2 linked regions of the Homo sapiens genome follow. The protein of the gene in region 2 binds, or shares a complex with, the protein of the main gene of each other region. Each region holds a gene or a part of one and is shown on either strand. Other genes may lie near its edges. The genes, in order: DLAT and PDK3. A codon is read from its position in the direction of its gene.

Evidence for each region.
Region 1: the proteins of PDK3 (region 2) and DLAT are in contact, whole or in part, in a crystal structure (PDB 1Y8N), measured with the Homo sapiens proteins. Residues at the interface, in NP_005382.1 of Homo sapiens: Arg21, Phe22, Ser23, Pro24, Ser25, Pro26, Leu27, Phe48, Lys51, Val55, Asn373, Lys374, Ser375, Arg378; in NP_001922.2 of Homo sapiens: Ala225 (codon at 2,537), Leu226 (codon at 2,534), Ser227 (codon at 2,531), Pro228 (codon at 2,528), Thr229 (codon at 2,525), Glu248 (codon at 2,468), Gly249 (codon at 2,465), Lys259 (codon at 2,435), Ala260 (codon at 2,432), Ile262 (codon at 2,426), Glu265.

What each region holds. Positions count from the first base shown.
Region 1 is NC_000011.10:112,027,222-112,035,952, reverse strand, and holds part of DLAT (dihydrolipoyllysine-residue acetyltransferase component of pyruvate dehydrogenase complex, mitochondrial isoform 2 precursor), read right to left. Parts: intron 7,439-8,731; coding exon 7,314-7,438; coding exon of another isoform or gene 7,310-7,313; intron 7,162-7,309; coding exon 7,008-7,161; intron 6,292-7,007; exon of another isoform or gene 5,562-6,291; intron 2,550-5,561; coding exon 2,423-2,549; intron 1-2,422.
Region 2 is NC_000023.11:24,467,517-24,476,247, reverse strand, and holds part of PDK3 (pyruvate dehydrogenase kinase, isozyme 3 isoform 2 precursor), read right to left. Parts: intron 1-8,731. UniProt on the Homo sapiens protein: Inhibits pyruvate dehydrogenase activity by phosphorylation of the E1 subunit PDHA1, and thereby regulates glucose metabolism and aerobic respiration. Can also phosphorylate PDHA2.

The sequences.
Region 1 (8,731 bases), on a different chromosome or scaffold from region 2:
CAGGCATGGTGGCAGGCGCCTGTAATCCCAGCTACTTGGGCAGCTGAGGCAGGAGAATTGCTTGAACCCGGGAGGTGGAAATTGCAGTGAGCCAAGATCATGCCATTGCACTCCAGCCTGGGCGACAAAGCAAGACTCTATCTCAAAAAAAAAAAAAAAAAAGGCTGGGTGCGGTGGTGGCTCACGCCTGTAATCCCAGCACTTTGGGAGGCACAAGGCAGTCAGATCACGAGGTCAGGAGTTCAAGACCAGCCTGGCCCACATAGTGAAACCACATTTCTACTAAAAATACAAAAATTAGCCGGGCGTAGTGGCATGCACCTGTAGTCCCAGCTACTCAGGAGGCTCAGGCAGGAGAATCGCTTGAACCCAGGAGGCAGAGGTTGTGGTGGGCCGAGATCACGCCACCGCACTCCAGCCTGGACAACAGAGCCAGACTCTGTTTCCAAAAAAAAAAAAAAGAAGTGTTTAAAATGAAAAGGCTCCTGGGCCACAATAGACTTCAAAGTTCAACCAAGGTAACACTTCTCTAGTGACTAGTCTCTATAGTGACACTGGTATTCAAGTTAAATGGTGAAGCAGAACTACTGTTTCCAAAGTTTCTGTGTTTTTAAGAAACAGAATCCTTTCTTCAAATAAAATTTATGGGGAAGCACAAAATACAAAAAGATAGAAAAGAACTGCTCTGCTGGAAGTAAGGCAGGGAGGCAGGGCTGTAAGGTCCTGCTCTTTAATTCCCCCTTTGCCTCAAGGTGCCTTAAAGGAATGATGGGATTTGAAGAACACAATCTGAAAACAACCAAGGCAGAGGATGCCCAGTACCTCCCATTACATCTTTGGGAAAGGCTTCCCTTTGGTGGTGATTATGAAGCAGAGAGGCTGGGTGCGGTGGCTTATGCCTGTAATCCCAGCACTTTGGGAGGCCGAGGCAGGCAGATCACCTGAGGTTAAAGAGCTCGAGACCAGCCTGGCCAACATGGTGAAACTCCATCTCTACTAAAAATGCAAAAAATTAGCCAGGCATGGTGGTGCATGCCTGTAGTCCCAGCTACTCGGGAGGCTGAGGCAGGAGAATTGCTTGAACCCAGGAGGCGGAGGCTGCAGTAAGCCAAGATCGCACCACTGTACTCAAGCCTGGGTGACAGAGCAAAACTCTGTCTCAAAAAAAAAAAAGAAAAAGCGGGGGTGCAGAGAGAAGAAATTCATAATACTACAAATCGCCATGGCTCACGCCTGTAATCCCAGCGCTTTGGGAGGCCAAGACAGGTGGATCACGAGGTCAGGAGATCAAGGCCATCCTGGCTAACACAGTGAAACCCCATCTCTACTAAAAATACAAAAAATTAGCCAGGCGTGGCAGCGGGCACCTGTAGTCCCAGCTACTCGGGAGGCTGAGGCAGGAGAATGGCGTGAACCCAGGAGGTGGAGCTTGCAGTGAGCTGAGACTGCGCCACTGCACTCCAGCCTGGGCAACACAGCGAGACTCCGTCTCAAAAAAAAAAAAAATAATAATAATAAATATATTATTGTCTATATGGGTTTTTTTAGCCTAAAAATGAATTAAGAAGGAGATATGTGGACATATGACATATCTGAACATATATATATTACACACATACATTCTATCAGTCATTCTCAAACTATGAAAACAATCTCAACCCTGGTTTCAGTTTTCCCTCAAAGTCATCTTAAATTCTTTGCTATTATCCTGCCATGGAAGTGATTTTCTCCTGTTTCTTCTTGACTTCCTTTGCCTAGTTTAGACAGCAGCAATTCTGATATAGCTTCTCAGTAACATAATAAGGCCAAGAAGCAAACTTGGGCCTAAAAATAATCTGTGAATTGACAGATTGATTGCCTTTGATTCAGTGAGCACAGGATGGAACTGACAAATCTGACTACGCATTATTTTTGTTATAAATTATGCTGGGCCAGGAACAGGGGCTCACGCTTGGAGTCCCAGCACTTTGAGAGGCCAAGGCAGGAGGATCGCTTGAGCCAGGAGTTCAAAACCAGCCTGGGCAATAAAGTGAGACCCCATCTCTACAAAAAATTTAAAAAATCAGCTAGGTGTGGTGGTTCAGGCCTGTAGTCCTACCTACTTGTGAGGCTAAAGCAGGAGGATCATTTGGGCATAAGCCCAGGAGTTCAAGGCTACAATGAGCTATGATCTTGCCACCGCACTCCAGCCTGGGCAACAGATTAAGACCCTGTCTGAAAAATAAGCAAATAAACAAATAAATAAATAAAAACTAAAGAATACATATAACTAAATAAAAATAAAATATTCTGTCCCAGAAAATGAATCCTAAGAATTATAAAGTTTTCATATTATCACTCACTCATTATAGGAAAGAATGGCAATCCTCTTCCTCATTGGGAAACTCAGTGCCTCAACCATTAAGAGCTGAAGAAATCTCACCTATAGTGGCTTTGTCAGTTTCTATCTCTGCCAGTAAGTCTCCTTCACTTAGCTTCTCACCCACTTTTTTTTCCCATCTCTGAACTGTGCCCATGGTCATGGTGGGAGAGAGGGCAGGAAGAAGTACCTGCAGAAACAAACACATATTATTGCTTAATACCAGGAAGACTTCTACATAATAAAAGTCTGGCAGACTTATGTGGTTTCATAGAATGATGGTGACTATGATAATCCAAATACTCACCACAGCAAAAGCTTCACACCTCAATAGCTTCCCACCAGGTAAATCATCCTTCAAATCTCATACTCTGACCCATACTCTTATACTCTCGCCCACACTCTAACACACACTCCAAGTTAAATGCAACAAGCACATGGGAAAGATTTCTTTCAGACAGTCAAAATTAATTTCTCAACATCTAAGTATGGAGCATCTTTTCATCTATTTTTATTTTTATTTTTATTTTGAGACAGAGTCTTGCTCTGTCCCCCAGGCTGGAGAGCAATGGCGCAATCTCGGCTCACTGCAACCTCCACCTCCTGGTTTCAAGTGATTCTCCTGCCTCAGCCTCCCGAGTAGCTGGATTACAGGCGGGTGCCATCATGCCCACTAATTTTTGTATTTTTGTAGAGATGGGGTTTTACCATGTTGGCCAGGCTGGTCTCTGAACGCCCATCCACAAGTAATCCGCCCGCCCTGGCCTCCCAAAGTGCTGGGATTACAGGCGTGAGCCACCGCGCCCAGACTTCATTTTTTTTTAACCAAGAAGTTTTTCATTTTCACAAAATGACCTTGGTCCAAACCATTCTGTTAAAATTTTACTGCGCTCTGTACTTAGCATCTACCTATTTTTTACCCACAGGAAACTGCATTTGTCCCAACCTTACCAGATATCTTTCCAAGATAAAAACGTAATATTAAGAACTGTTCTGTGCTCGCTTCAGCAACACATATACTAAAATTGGAACGATATAGAGATTAGCATGGCCCCTGCGCAAGGACAACAAATTCGTGAAGCATTCCATATTAAAAAAAAAAACATTATTTGGTGACAATAGTTAATAACAATGTATTGTATTCTTGTAAATTCCTGACAGTAGATTTTTAAGTGGCCTAAAAGATAAGTCTATAAAGTAATGCATATATAAATTAGCTCAATCTAGCCATTCCACAATATATACATATTTCAAAACAACTTGTTGTATATAATATATGTACACAGAATTCTTACACAGAATTTTATTTGATAATTTTTTTTTTTTTTGAGATGGAGTCTTACTCTGTTGCCCAGCCTGGAGTGCAGTGGCATGATGATCATTCAAAAAAATAAAACAGGAGGCCAGGCACAGCTGTTCACATCTGTAATCCCAGCACTTTGGGAGGCCAAGGATCACTTGGGAGGGGCGGATCACTTGAGGCCAGGAGTTCAAGACCAGCCGGGCCATCATGTCGAAACCCCCTCCTCTGCTAAAAATACCAAAATTAGCTGGGCATGGTGACACCCACCTGTAGTCCCAGCTACTCAGGAGGCTGAGGCATGAGAATCGCAGAGGTTGCCGTGAGCCAAGATCGTGCCACTACACTCCAGCCATGGTGACAGAGCAAGACTGTCTCAAAAAAAAAAAAAAAAAAAAAAAAAAAAAACAGGAAAGACCAGCATGGTGGCTCATGCCTATAATCTCAGCATTTTGGTAGGCTGATGCAGGAGGATCACTTGAGCCCAGGAGTTCACGACCAGCCTGAGCAACATGATGTAACCTCATCTCTTAAAAAAAAAAAAAAAAAAAAATTAGCTGGGCATGGTGGCACGTGCCTGTAGTCACAGCGTCTTGGGAGGCTGAGGTGGGAGGATGGCTTGAGCCAGGAGGTCAAGGCTACAGTGAGCTAAGATTGCACCACTGCACTCCAGCCTAGGTGAAGAGTGAGACCCTATCTCAAAAAATAAAATAGCTAGGTGTGGTGGTATGTGCATGTATTCCCAGCTAGTCGGGAGGCTGAGGCAGGAGAATCGCTTGAACCCAGGAGGCAGAGGTTGCAGTGAGCCGAAATCATGCCACTGCACTCCAGCCTAGGTGATGGAGTGAGACCCTGTTTCAAAAAATAAATAAATAAAAATAAAAAACCAGGGGTAAAAAAAGCCCTGTTTTTATAATAGCCATTTCCACCCCAATAATATCCAAACATCAGAATGCCTATCTAAATGTAAAATTGCTTTACTATTTATATGGCTTGTGTATCCACTGAATTTGGTTTCATTTGCTATCCTCTTTGTCTTCTGTATCTGATTAGCAACAGGATTATGCGGAGAGGAAAATAACTTCAATTGAAGATGTTTCCAGAGAGGGGAAAGTAAGACAAGCCTTAGAAAAAAAATTGTAAGTGCTTTTTTTGTGCAGAATTTGCCATCTTCATCTGCTTCTTAAGAAACAGTGAAGCCAATAATCTCTATACAGTATCTTAAAGAATACTATCAGAGATTCAGAATCCAATTCAGTATCTTAAAGAATAATTAAGGTAAAACCCTAACACATGCACACAAAGCTACAGACACAAAGTAGAGGAAAATTAAGTCAGTCTTACATCATGAGATAGAATTTGCCGAACAGCATGTAATACATGTGTGAACTGAACACCTGGCAAAAAATCCTAAATGATTGTTACTAACAGACCATGGAGTAGAACATTATTTCCAAAGGAGAAAAAGATTCCTATACAAAAATTTCTACAAATAAACTAGATTAAGGAGAAATGCCAGTCAGAATTATTTAGAAAAGGACGGCTGGATTTTTATCCACTTTTAACATCTAAAGCACACAAATATACAGACGATAACCCTAATACCTAATAAACTGACTTAGTTTCTTAGAAACTGATTTAGTTAGCACAATCAACAGTGATTACATTCACTGCCTTCAACTTTGATGCAACACTATTACATATGTGTATCTTACACTTAACTTTTGTCAGTTTTCTCATTTATTAATACTATTGGACTACTTCACCCACTCTTGGAAAATAGATCACCACATGTCAAAAGAACACCAACTGGGGACTTTCATTCAACAGACAGCACTTGACACCTATGATACAGCTTGGATGTCTGTCCCCTCCAAATCTCATGCTGAAATATGATCCCCCGACTTCCGTTTCCGGGTCAGAGCCATGGTGGTGGCAACTTCAAGCCCTGCTAACCCCATGGTGTTCTTTGATGTCAGCAATGGCAGTCAGGAAGTTGGCCGCACAAAGATCGAGCTCTCTGCAGACGTTGTGCCTAAGACGACCGAGAACTTTGGGTAGTTCTGCACTAGAGAATTCAGAAAAGATGGGGTTCCAATAGGATACAAAGGAAGCACTTTCCACAGGGTCATAAAGGATTTCATGATTTAGGGTGGAGATTTTGTTAATGGAGATGGTACTGGAGTCGCCAGTATTTACCAGGAGACATTCGCAGACGAAAATTTTAAACTTAGACACTCAGCTCCAGGCCTGCTTTCCACGGCAAACAGCGGTCCCAGTACAAATGGCTGTCAGTTCTTTATCACCTGCTCTAAGTGTGATTGGCTGGATGGGAAGCATGTAATGTTTGGAAAAATCACTGATGGACTTCTAGTGATGAGAAAGATTCAGAATGTTCCCACAGGCCCCAACAATAAGCCCAAACTACTGTGGTGATCTCAAAGTGCGGGGAGATGTAGTCCAGACCAAGACTGAATTAGGCCTTCCCTTCTTGGTGGTGTTCTTGAGTAAGATAATCTGGACTGGCCCCTGTGTTTGCTTCCCTGCCTGCTGCTGCCCCATTTGATCAAGAGACCCTGGAAGTACTGGAGATTCAGAATCCAAGACTGTGTAAATAAAGTTTTTTTGTATGTGGAAAAAAAAAAAAAGAAATATGATCCCCAATGTTAGAGATGGGGTCTGGTGGCAGGTGTCTGGGTATTGGAGGAGGATCCCTCGTGAATGGCTTGCTGCATGCCCCATGGTAATGAGTTAAGGGGAAATCTGATTGCTATAAAGAGCCTGGTTACCCACTCCCCTCTGTCTCTTGTTCCCTCTCTCATGGGACACACCACCCTTCCCCTTTCCCTTCCAACTTCCACCATGATTGTAAGCTTCCTGTGGCCACAAGAGAAACAGATGCTGGCGCCCTGCTTCTTGTACAGCCTGCAGAACCTTGAGCCAAATGAACCTTTTTTCTTTATAAATTACCCAGCCCTAGGTATTTCTTCATGCCAAAGTAAAACAGACTAACACAGCCTGCTATAAACTCTAATTATACAGGGAATAGATGTTAGTAAAAATCATCCTCAAAATCTGTAATGTAATGTTCTTGAATGAAAAGTGCCACGCATTACCCTGTGTACTACACTGAGGCTGAGAAAGGTTACAGGAACTGTTCAAGTTCTTATAACTGGAAATAACAACCAGGAAGAATAGTTGTCAATCTTCATGTTTAAACCTATATACTCCCAAATGACAAGACCTAACCACATTTAATGTCAGTTTCCAAGATGTAGTAGCCATCTATGAAAAAAAGTGAGTAAGTAAGTAATCACCTAGAGCAAAAACTCAGAGGCTGAGCCTCACCTGCATGTGAGGGGGATATGAGCTACCAGGAGCCTGAGCAGAAGGTGTAGGTGGCGAAGCAGTGGCAGCAGGGGTTGGTGCTGGGGCCGCTTGTGGGGTAGGTGCTGCTGAGGAATCCAGTGTATAATTTTTAAAGGCCTCAATATCCTCAGGCCTAAGGAAGAGAAAGAATGCATAAATATAATGGGCAGATTCAGCTTTCACAAAAGTAGTCTTAAAAAATAGTCTTTAACTCCTAATTCTCAATTCTGGGTAAAATACTCCACCAAGCAATGAAGTTCCACAAATTATGAGCGCACTACTCACTTGCCAACTGTGATACAGATGATCGCTCCGATGGGAACATCCCTGGTACCTTCAGCAACAAGTATCTTTGCCATATAACACTCCTCCAGGCTCTCAAATCCAACAGTGGCTTTATCAGTTTCAACCTTTTAACACAAAAAGCAGTAGCTCAGGTTTGTACTGTTGGTATGTAATTTATTAGCTTGTGTCTAGAATTTTTTTTTTTTTTTTTTTTTTTTTGAGACACAGAGTCTCATTCTGTCACCAAGGCTGGAGTGCAGTGGTGCAATCTCGGCTCATTGCAACCTCCCCCTCCCAGGTTCAAGCGATTATCCTGCCTCAGCCTCCCGAGTAGCTGGGATTACAGGAACAGGCTGCCATGCCCGGCTGATTTTTGTATTTTTAGCAGAGACGGGGTTTCACCATGTTGGCCAGCCTGGCCTTTGTGTCTAGAATTATACAGTTCATGTGAAGATAAGGCCACTACGACAGATTTCAAAGAAGAAATTACTTTAGAAACGCCTTGGTTAAAATCAGTTTGGCCAGCTGCTGACAACTTATCCAACCAATCTTGTCTAACATCAAGTTGTGAAAAACACTTCAGTTTCTTAAACAAAGGGGTAGCTACACATCCAGAAAGTCAATGTTCAGTCAATTAGGCAAAGCCAGTCTCTTCGAACTCATCTCCGTTACTTTAAAACAACTTACCCTCTCCCTCTCCCTCTCCGTCTCCCTCTCCCTCTCCCCACGGTCTCCCTCTCCCTCTCTTTCCACGGTCTCCCTCTGATGCTGAGCCGAAGCTGGACTGTACTGCTGCCTTCTCGGCTCACTGCAACCTCCCTGCCTGATTCTCCTGCCTCAGCCTGCTGAGTGCCTGCGATTGCAGGCACGCGCCGCCACGCCTGACTGGTTTTCGTATTTTTTTGGTGGAGACGGGGTTTCGCTGTGTTGGCCGGGCTGGTCTCCAGCTCCTAACCGCGAGTGATCCGCCAGCCTTGGCCTCCCGAGGTGCCGGGATTGCAGACGGAGTCTGGTTCACTCAGTGCTCAATGGTGCCCAGGCTGGAGTGCAGTGGCGTGATCTCGGCTCGCTACAACCTCCACCTCCCAGCCGCCTGCCTTGGCCTCCCAAAGTGCCGAGATTGCAGCCTCTGCCCGGCTGCCACCCCGTCTGGGAAGTGAGGAGCGTCTCTGCCTGGCCGCCCATCGTCTGGGACGTGAGGAGCCCCACTGCCTGGCTGCCCAGTCTGGAAAGTGAGGAGCGTCTCTGCCCGGCTGCCATCCCATCTAGGAAGTGAGGAGCGCCTCTGCCCGGCCGCCCATCGTCTGAGATGTGGGGAGCGCCTCTGCCCCGCCGCCCCGTCTGGGATGTGAGGAGCGCCTCTACCCGGCCGCGACCCCGTCCGGGAGGTGAGGAGCGTCTCTTCCCGGCCGCCCCGT
Region 2 (8,731 bases):
GGAACCCACAGATATGGAGGACGAACTGTACTCTTTTTAAAAAACAGTCTATTAATTAGAAAAAAAAAAACAGGTGGCCAGCCCTCAGGCTATAGGTTGACATTCTTAGACCAGGGTATTCCTAAAATAAAAGGATTTGCCCAACTCTAAAATCAGATTACCATGGAAGTAAAATAATGGAATGCCTATACATATACAGGAAAAGAAAAAGCAGTGATATTTTCAGATTCCATCCAGTAACAAAACCAAGGTTTCCCAAACCTTGCCAACAGTCTGATCAATTTTCCAAAAGCTTAATGGGAGGAAACCACCCAACCATCAATAGATCAGTAACTGCAGCTGTCTCCACTTTCAAAAGCACACAAAACATAAGTGCTACAAAGACAGTGAGGCCAAAGCCATGACTTTGGTGCCTGAGAGCTGCCCCAGAGCCAGATAAACCACGCCATGTTAAAATGCAGCCTTATCAGATCTTAAAGGCCCAAAAAGCCCTCACTTCCTCCCTTCTTTCCTTCCTTTCCTCCTTCCGTCTTCTACCTTTCCTCCCTTCTTTCCTTCCCTTTCTACTTCCCTCCCTCCTTCTTTTTTTGAGACATGGTCTTGCTCTATTGTCCAGGCTGGAGTGCAGTGACGCGATCCCAGCTCACTGCAGCCTCAACTTCCCAGGCTCAAGCGATCCTCCCATCTCAGCTTCCCATGTAGCCGGGACCACAGGGGTGCACCACTATGCCTGGATAATTTTTTTATTTTTTTGTAGAGACAGGGGTCTCACTGTGTTGCCCGAGCTGGTCTCAAACTCCTGGACTCAAGCGATCCTCCTGCCTCAGCCTCTCAAAATGCTGGGATTACAGGCATTAGCCACAGTGCCTGGACCAATTCTTTCTTTAAATTTAAAAACTGGTCAAGATGCAATAAGCCAAGTTAGATATCTTTACCCTCAACTAAATTTTTCTCTTCCCCTTTAATTCTGAATAGTTGATCCCTTTCTCCAAACAGGTTGGTCTAATTCTTGGTGACACCTTGTAGCAGAAAAACTACTGCTTACAGGGAAAAAAAAAAAAAATCTGTCATTTACATATGTAAAGGTACAAAATAAACACACTCGGAAGCAGAATGAGATTGTTTTTCCCTTTTCCTAACATAATTTTTTTAAAAACCTTTCCATTTTCTCCAAGAACGCAATCACTGTTGTCCCCAGTGGTGATCAGGCTTCAAGGAGCAAAATGACTTAAAAAGCCAAGACTTTGCGAAAGGGAGTCATTTGGAACCAAAGTATCTCCAAAGTATCTTAAAATATGTTCTAAAGGAAAAGAAGATGGCTGGGCCCTTAAACTTTAAGAATAGTAAGAATGCGGAAACTGGCCGCTACCTTCTAAGAGCTAAAGGCTCTGAGGTTCACAGAGCCGGTGTGATTATGACAGAAATCAAAATATTTAGTTTTGTGAAAAGACGGCAGGGCTATCAGCAATCTGCTTTCTGGTGGTTTTGAGAGATGCTATATTTACACATGGGGACACTATGGAAGTTTAAACTTGGCTGGGCACAGTGGCTCACGTCTGTAATCCCAACACTTTGGGAGGCAGAGGCGGGTGGATCACCTGAAGTCAGGAGTTCGAGACCAGCCTGGCCAAGACGGTGAAACCCCGTCTCTGCTAAAAATACAAAAATTAGCCGGGCGTGGTGGCGCATGCCTGTAGTCCCAGGTACTCGGGAGGCTGAGGCACGAGAACTGCTTGAACCTGGGAGGCGGAGGTTGCAGTGAGCCGAGATGGTGCCACTGCACTCTAGCCTGGGCGACAGAGTGAGACTCCGTCTCAAAATAAATAAATAAATAAATAAATAAATAAATAAATAAATAAATAAAATAAACTTATATAACTGACTAAATGAAAGTGGCATAATGTTTAATAACCTCGATATGGAGTCAGGCATGCCATCAGTAATTGCCATTTATGGAGCACCTGCTCTGTGCAGAGCAAGCTGAGCTGAGGAAGCTGTAAGAGGTTACAAAAAAGAGGTGAGCGCCTGCCCTTTGGAAAGAGACAATTGAGGATAAAATCTAAGAAAAGGAGGCAGGAGCAAAATCTCTTTAATGCAAGTGTGGCTGTGCAAAAGTAACTGGAAAATCAAACAAATGGGACGTCAGTCTGCAGGGAGGGGAGAAAAGTGGTTAATATGGGAACCAGAAGCCGACAGGGCGAGACTGAAAGATGAAAAGCAAGTCCAAAAGAAAATGTGAATCATTTCCTACCAACTCATTCAACATTCAGAAGGTTCTATCTTTATGCCATAATAGTCCAAGTTCTCCTTTTCTTATATAATTAAGAGAATTTTTAATTTATCACAACTGCTTAAGGGAAAGAGAACTCAAATTTGTGCAAATATAACAAGGAGCCACCATAACATTAACTGCCAGTCAAAAACAATACATTGATCCAAAAATCCAGAGAGGTTTATAGAAAAAAATATGGAACAAGACATGTGAAAGTTATATTTCAGGAAATAAATTCAGGCCAGGCACGGTGACTCATGCCTGTAATCCCAGCACTTTGGGAGGCAGAGGCGGGTAGATCACCTAAGGTCAGGAGTTCGAGACCAGCCTGGGCAATAGGGCAAAACCCCGTCTCTACTAAAAATACAAAAATAAGCCAGGCGTGGTGGCAGACACCTGTAATCCCAGCTACTCGGGAGGCTGAGGCAGGAGAATCACCTGAACCCGGGAGGCAGAGGTTGCAGTGAGCCAAGACCAAGCCGTTGCACTCTGGCCTAGGTGACAGAGTGAGACTCTGTCTCAAATAAGTAAATAAATAAATAAATAAATTCAACAAATGTGTGGTTGGTTTTTTTGTTTTTGTTTGTTTGTTTGTTTTGTTTTTTGAGACGGAGTCTCACTCTAGCCAGGCTGGAGTGCAGTGGCGCAATCTTGGCCCACTGCAACCTCCACCTCCCAGGTTCAAGTAATTCTCCTGCCTCAGCCTCCCGAGTACCTGGGACTATAGGCGCCCACCACCATGCCTGGCTAATTTTTGTATTTTTAGTAGAGACGGGGTTTCACCACGTTGGCCAGGATGGTCTCAATCTCTTGACCTCGTGATCCACCCACCTCGGCCTCCCAAAGTGCTGGGATTACAGGCGTGAGCCACTGCACCCAGCCAATAAATGTTTATTCTGAACATTAAAATGTGATGTTTTCATTGCTCCCAATAAGGAATTAACATATATTATCTGAAGCCACACTGTCCAATATAAATATGTGAGCCAGGCCAGGGGCTGTGGCTCATGCCTGTAATCCTAGCACTTTGGGAGGCTGAGGTGGGCAGATCACCTGAGGTCGAGAGTTCAAGACCAGCCTGACCAACATGGAGAAACCCCATCTCTACTAAAAATACAAAATTAGCTGGGCATGTAGGCGCATGCCTGTAATCCCAGCTACTTGGGAGGCTGAGGCAGGAGAATCACTTGAACCTGGGAGGCGGAGGTTGCGGTGAGCCCAGATCGCACCATTGCACTCCAGCCTGGGCAACATGAGCAAAAACTCCGTCTCACAAAAAAAAAAAAAAAAAAAAAAAAAAGAAAGAAAGAAATATGTAAGCCATATATATAATTTAAAATTTCCTAGTAGCCACATTAACATAAAAAAGAAATAAAGTTTTTGATAATATTCCATTTAACCCAACATATCTAAAATATTACCATTTCAACATGCAATCAATATAAGATGTACTGATATTTTACTATTTTTATATTAAGTCTTTGAAATCCAGTGTGTATTTTATACTGAAAGCACATCTCAATTCAGAGGCTAAATTTCTATCAGAAATAATTGACCTATAAAGAGATTTCCTAAAATTTACAGGTGATAAAGTGGATTCCATATCCAAGTTATTCTACACAGATGTAAAAATTAACTGCATCAAGTATCCATTTTAAATTTAAATTAAGTCAATTCAGTTTTTCGGCCACACTAGCCACATTTCAAGTGCTCAAAGGTCTCCTGGCTGACAAGTGGTGACCCATATGGGACAAAGGTCTATAGAAATAAAGTAATAACTATAAAGATAACCACTAGAACCAAAAATTCAAGCCTAGTTATTTATTAAAATAAATATGGCAAAACAAAGCAAATATATAACATAGGAAAACTGAGGTATTAAAAACAGAAAGCAACAGAAAATTACAAATGCTTATCATTACAGATGACAGATCTATCATACCAGTAAGTATAAATAGGTTAAACTTACCACATGAAAAAGACTGATTCACAAAGCAAAACCCAACTTTACACTACATTTAGAGACATATTTAGAGCGAAGTAATTCAGAAAAACTGAAAATAAAAGGATGGCAATGCTATCCCAGGAAATGTAAACAAGAAAATAGGGAACTAGATCTCAATGTCAAATAAGGACGAATCCAGGCCAAAAAGCCTTCAACTAGTAAAAGGGCAGCACTCTAATGCTAATGGGTATATCTCACAATGAGGATGTGAGTTAATAAGCATCAAACATAACACTGATAGTCATAAAGCAAAAACAATAGGAGCTATACGGAGAAAGAGAATCATTATTAGGAGACTTTAACTTCTCTTGTGTTTGATCCATGACAAATCAGGTGGATAAAAAAAGTAAAGTTACACAAAACCTAAATAACATAATATTGCAGAGCTGACATATCACACTCTGCAACCTGAGAAGAGAGTATAACCTTCTTTTCGCTGCCCAAGGAACATTCACAGAAAACAACCATATAATGAGCTTCAAAGTTAACATCAATAAATTAGAGAATAATTCAGACAACATTCTGTAATCACAGTGCAACAAAACTAGACATAAATAAAATTAAAATGCAGAATGCACCTTCACTGGAAATTTTTAACTCCTCCAAACAACTCTTCATTCATAGGAAAATAAAAACCTGAAGACACAGAAGAGCTAAGAGAAAAAAGACCAAATACACACATCAGCTGCTAAAGCAGTGCTCAGAGGAATAACTAACCTTAAACATTGAAATAAACAAGACAAAGAAGAAAGCATTTAATTTTTTTTATTATACTTTAAGTTCTGGGGTACATGTGCAGAACGTGCAGGTTTGTTACATAGGTATACACGTGCCATGGTGGTTTGCTGCACCCATCAACTTGTCATCTACATTAGGTATTTCTCCTAATGCTATCTCTCCCCTAGCCCCCCCACCTCCCGACAGGCCCTGGTGTGTGATGTTCCCCTTGCCGTGTCCATGTGTTCTCATTGTTCAACTCCCACTTATGAGTGAGAACAGAAAGCACCTAATTTTTAAAAGAACAAAATAAACCTGAGACCAGAAGGAATTATTAAAGTCAAATCAGACAATAAACTAGATAACAAAAGTCATAAAACTAATAAATCCAACCCAATAAATCATCAACTAACCTACTCAAGAAGAAGGGGGGGGACAAATGTCACAGGGAAAATTAAGACTGTTCAGTGACAACTATCTCAGCTATCCAAACTGACTTAAAAACCTCAATGAGTAGGATAATTTTCTTTTTTTCTTTTCTTCTTTTTTTTTTTTTTTTTTTTTTTGAGATGCCGTTTCACTCTTGTCACCCAGGCTGGAGTACAAGGGCATGATCTTGGCTCACTGCAACCTCCGCCTCCTGGGTTCAAGCAATTCTCCTACCTCAGCCTCCCCAGTAGCTGGGATTACAGGCACCCACCACTATGCCCAGCTAATGTTTGTATTTTTAGTAGAGACGAGGTTTCACCATGTTGGCCAGGCTGGTCTCAAACTCCCAACCCCATGTGATCCACCTGCCTTGGCCTCCCAAAGTGCTGGGATTACAGGCATGAGCCACCGCGCCTAGCCAAGTAGGATAATTTTCAAGAAAAATATATCAAAATGGACTCTAGAAGAGACAGAAAATCTACAGAGATCAATAACACAGAATAGAGAAAGCTATCAGAGAGCAAAACTCCCCAAAACATACAGGCTTAAACACTTTCATATGAAGTTCTACCAAATCTTTAAGAACCAGATAATTCAAAAGATAAATTAGTCTTAGCATAGGAAAAGAAAAAAATTTATCTTTTTGAAAACAAAAATTTATCTTTTTGAAACAAGCATGACTTTGATCAGAAAATCTAACAGACCACACATACAACATCTACAGACAAATAGCAAATGGATATCAATAAAACAAACCCAGGAGTTCATCATTCTATTCTCTCTACTTCTGTAAATGTTTAAGGTCTAGAGATCTAATGCACAACATGAAGAATATATAATAGATAATAAAATTGTACTGTATATGGGATTCATGCTAAATGAGTAGATTTTAGCTGACCTTGCCACAAAAATAAAAAAGGGTAACTATGTGAGATGATAGATATGTTAATTTCACTGTAGTAACCTTTTAACTATATGTATCCCATAACATCATGTTGTATACCTTAATTATACACAATAAAATTTATATATGTATTTACCTATACATGTACATCCCCCAGGCTGGAGTGCAGTGGCAGAAACACAGCTCACTGCAGCTTCAATCTGGGCTCAAGCCATCCTCCTGTCTCAGCCTCCTGAGTAGCTAAGACCCCAGGTGTGCGATACCACCACTCCTGGCTAATCTTATTTATTTATTATTATTATTTTTTTTAGAGACAGGATCTCACTATGTTGCCCAGGGCTGGCCTCAAACTCCTGGTCTCAAGCCATCCTCTGTCTTGGCCTCTCAAAGCACTGGAATTACAGGCACCCACCTAAGTTTTTTTTTTTAATTTCCACAATAAAAAACTAAAATAAAGACATCTTTACTCAAGGAGAAAAAAATTCTATCTAGATATATCATTTTTTTTTTACCTATCAAAAGTTTGACAACAATGTGGTGAAGGCATAGGAAAACAGGTACTCTCAGAAACTTCTAGCGAGGGGGAAAACAAACAACCTTTATGGAAAGCAATTTGACAATGTTCGCCAAAATTACAAATGCACATACCTGCTGATGTAGCAATCTCACGTTTAGGAATCTGTCCTACAGATACACGCGGACATGCATGAAATGACAATGCATATAATAATTCACTGGAGGGCAGGTTGCCACAGCAAAGTCTAGAAACAACCTATTAATTGTAGCCATCAATAGGGAAAGTTGCTAATAAATTCTGGTACATTCATATAACCAAATTCTCAGAAGCCATAAAAAAGAAAAACAAAGTTCTGCAGGTACAGATATACAAAAATCTGTCTCTAAGGTATTAAGCTCAAAAAACAAGGAACAGACAAAGCTATAAACTGCCATTTATGCGAAAAAAGGGGAGGCCAGTGGGCACAAGTGGGAAGCAGGCTTTTCTGTGTCCTTTTGAACCCTCTGAATTTGGAACCATGTGACTGTAATCTTAGGCCCAAAAGAAAAATCTCATTTTAAAAAATGCCACCCTTTGGAATGTACTATTGCCATAATAAATTAAAAATCCATTTAGAACACTTGTTATTCTTGCTATATTTGCTAACTGTGTGGCAGGCTATATTTCAAGTCAAGATGGAGTTCAAGAAACTTTCATTATTTTAAAAAGCATAGAGAAAAATACTGCACATAGATGAAAGGGGGCCAGCAGATCAGACAGAAGATCATCTGATTAATGGTGCTTAACCCTGGATATGCTTTAGAATGACAGGGGGATCTCCTAAAAATACCAGTGCTCTGCTCTCCACCCCCAGCACCCCCAGACCATTTACAACAAAAATTCAGAGTATGAGGCCCTGGCCTGAAAACCACTCAAGTAAACACTTCCAAACAGTGATTCAACAGAAGTCCAGGGGACATTTTGCTCCCCCAGGGGACATTTGGCAATGACTGGAGACATGTTTGGTTGTCACGACTTGGAGTGGGAGGTGCTCATGGCATCTAGTGGGTAGAGGCCAGGGATGTAGCTCAACTTCCCACAGTGCACAAGACAGCTCCTACCAAAATTACCTGGCCTGAAATGGCAAGAGTGCTGAGGCTCAGGAACCCCTGCTTTAAAATAAAAGCACAGCTTCTGAAGTAACAACAAGTTTTAGCCTCCACTTTTGAACATAGCAAATAATCTCCTTATTTACTGATGTGCAGTACATCCACATAAGAAAGCCTATTTATCAAGGTTGTAACAAATTGTGTATATCCTGTGTATCTCCTTTCTCTGGTCCCTGTCTAGTTACTCTAGTCAAAATGTACGTCCCATTTGTAAAGTACCCATGGAGAAAGGCATCAAGTTCATAAACTAGCAGCCTGTGGGCCAACTTGATCCATCCATCTATTTTGTTTATGCCAAAGTTCTCTTGAAATATACTGAATTGGTGCCAATCAGCTGCCCCTTTGGAGCTAGCTATATACCAGGAATTTATCACGGTCCTCAACTCGTTGGCTTCATTCACTTATCCACTGCCCACTACCTGGTGCTTTAAGTGCCTGAGTTGGCCCTCTCCTGCAGTTTTCTCTAATCATACAGGGGCATGAAGCCTCTTCACTCCTCCTCTCTCCTCACCTTAAAAATATCCCACACCCATTCTGAATTCTCCAACTCCCACATCAATTGCCAAAATAGAACTGCTATCAAGAGACAGAACTAAGAGAAAAGTAGAAGTAGAGATGGCCTTTTTGCAACAACTCCCGTCTTTTAGTTGTCCTGTCATTAAAGATAGGCTGATTAGCACCTGATTCATCTCTGGGTGTTACAAACTAGCCTTGTCACTTCTAGCAAATTCCACTACAA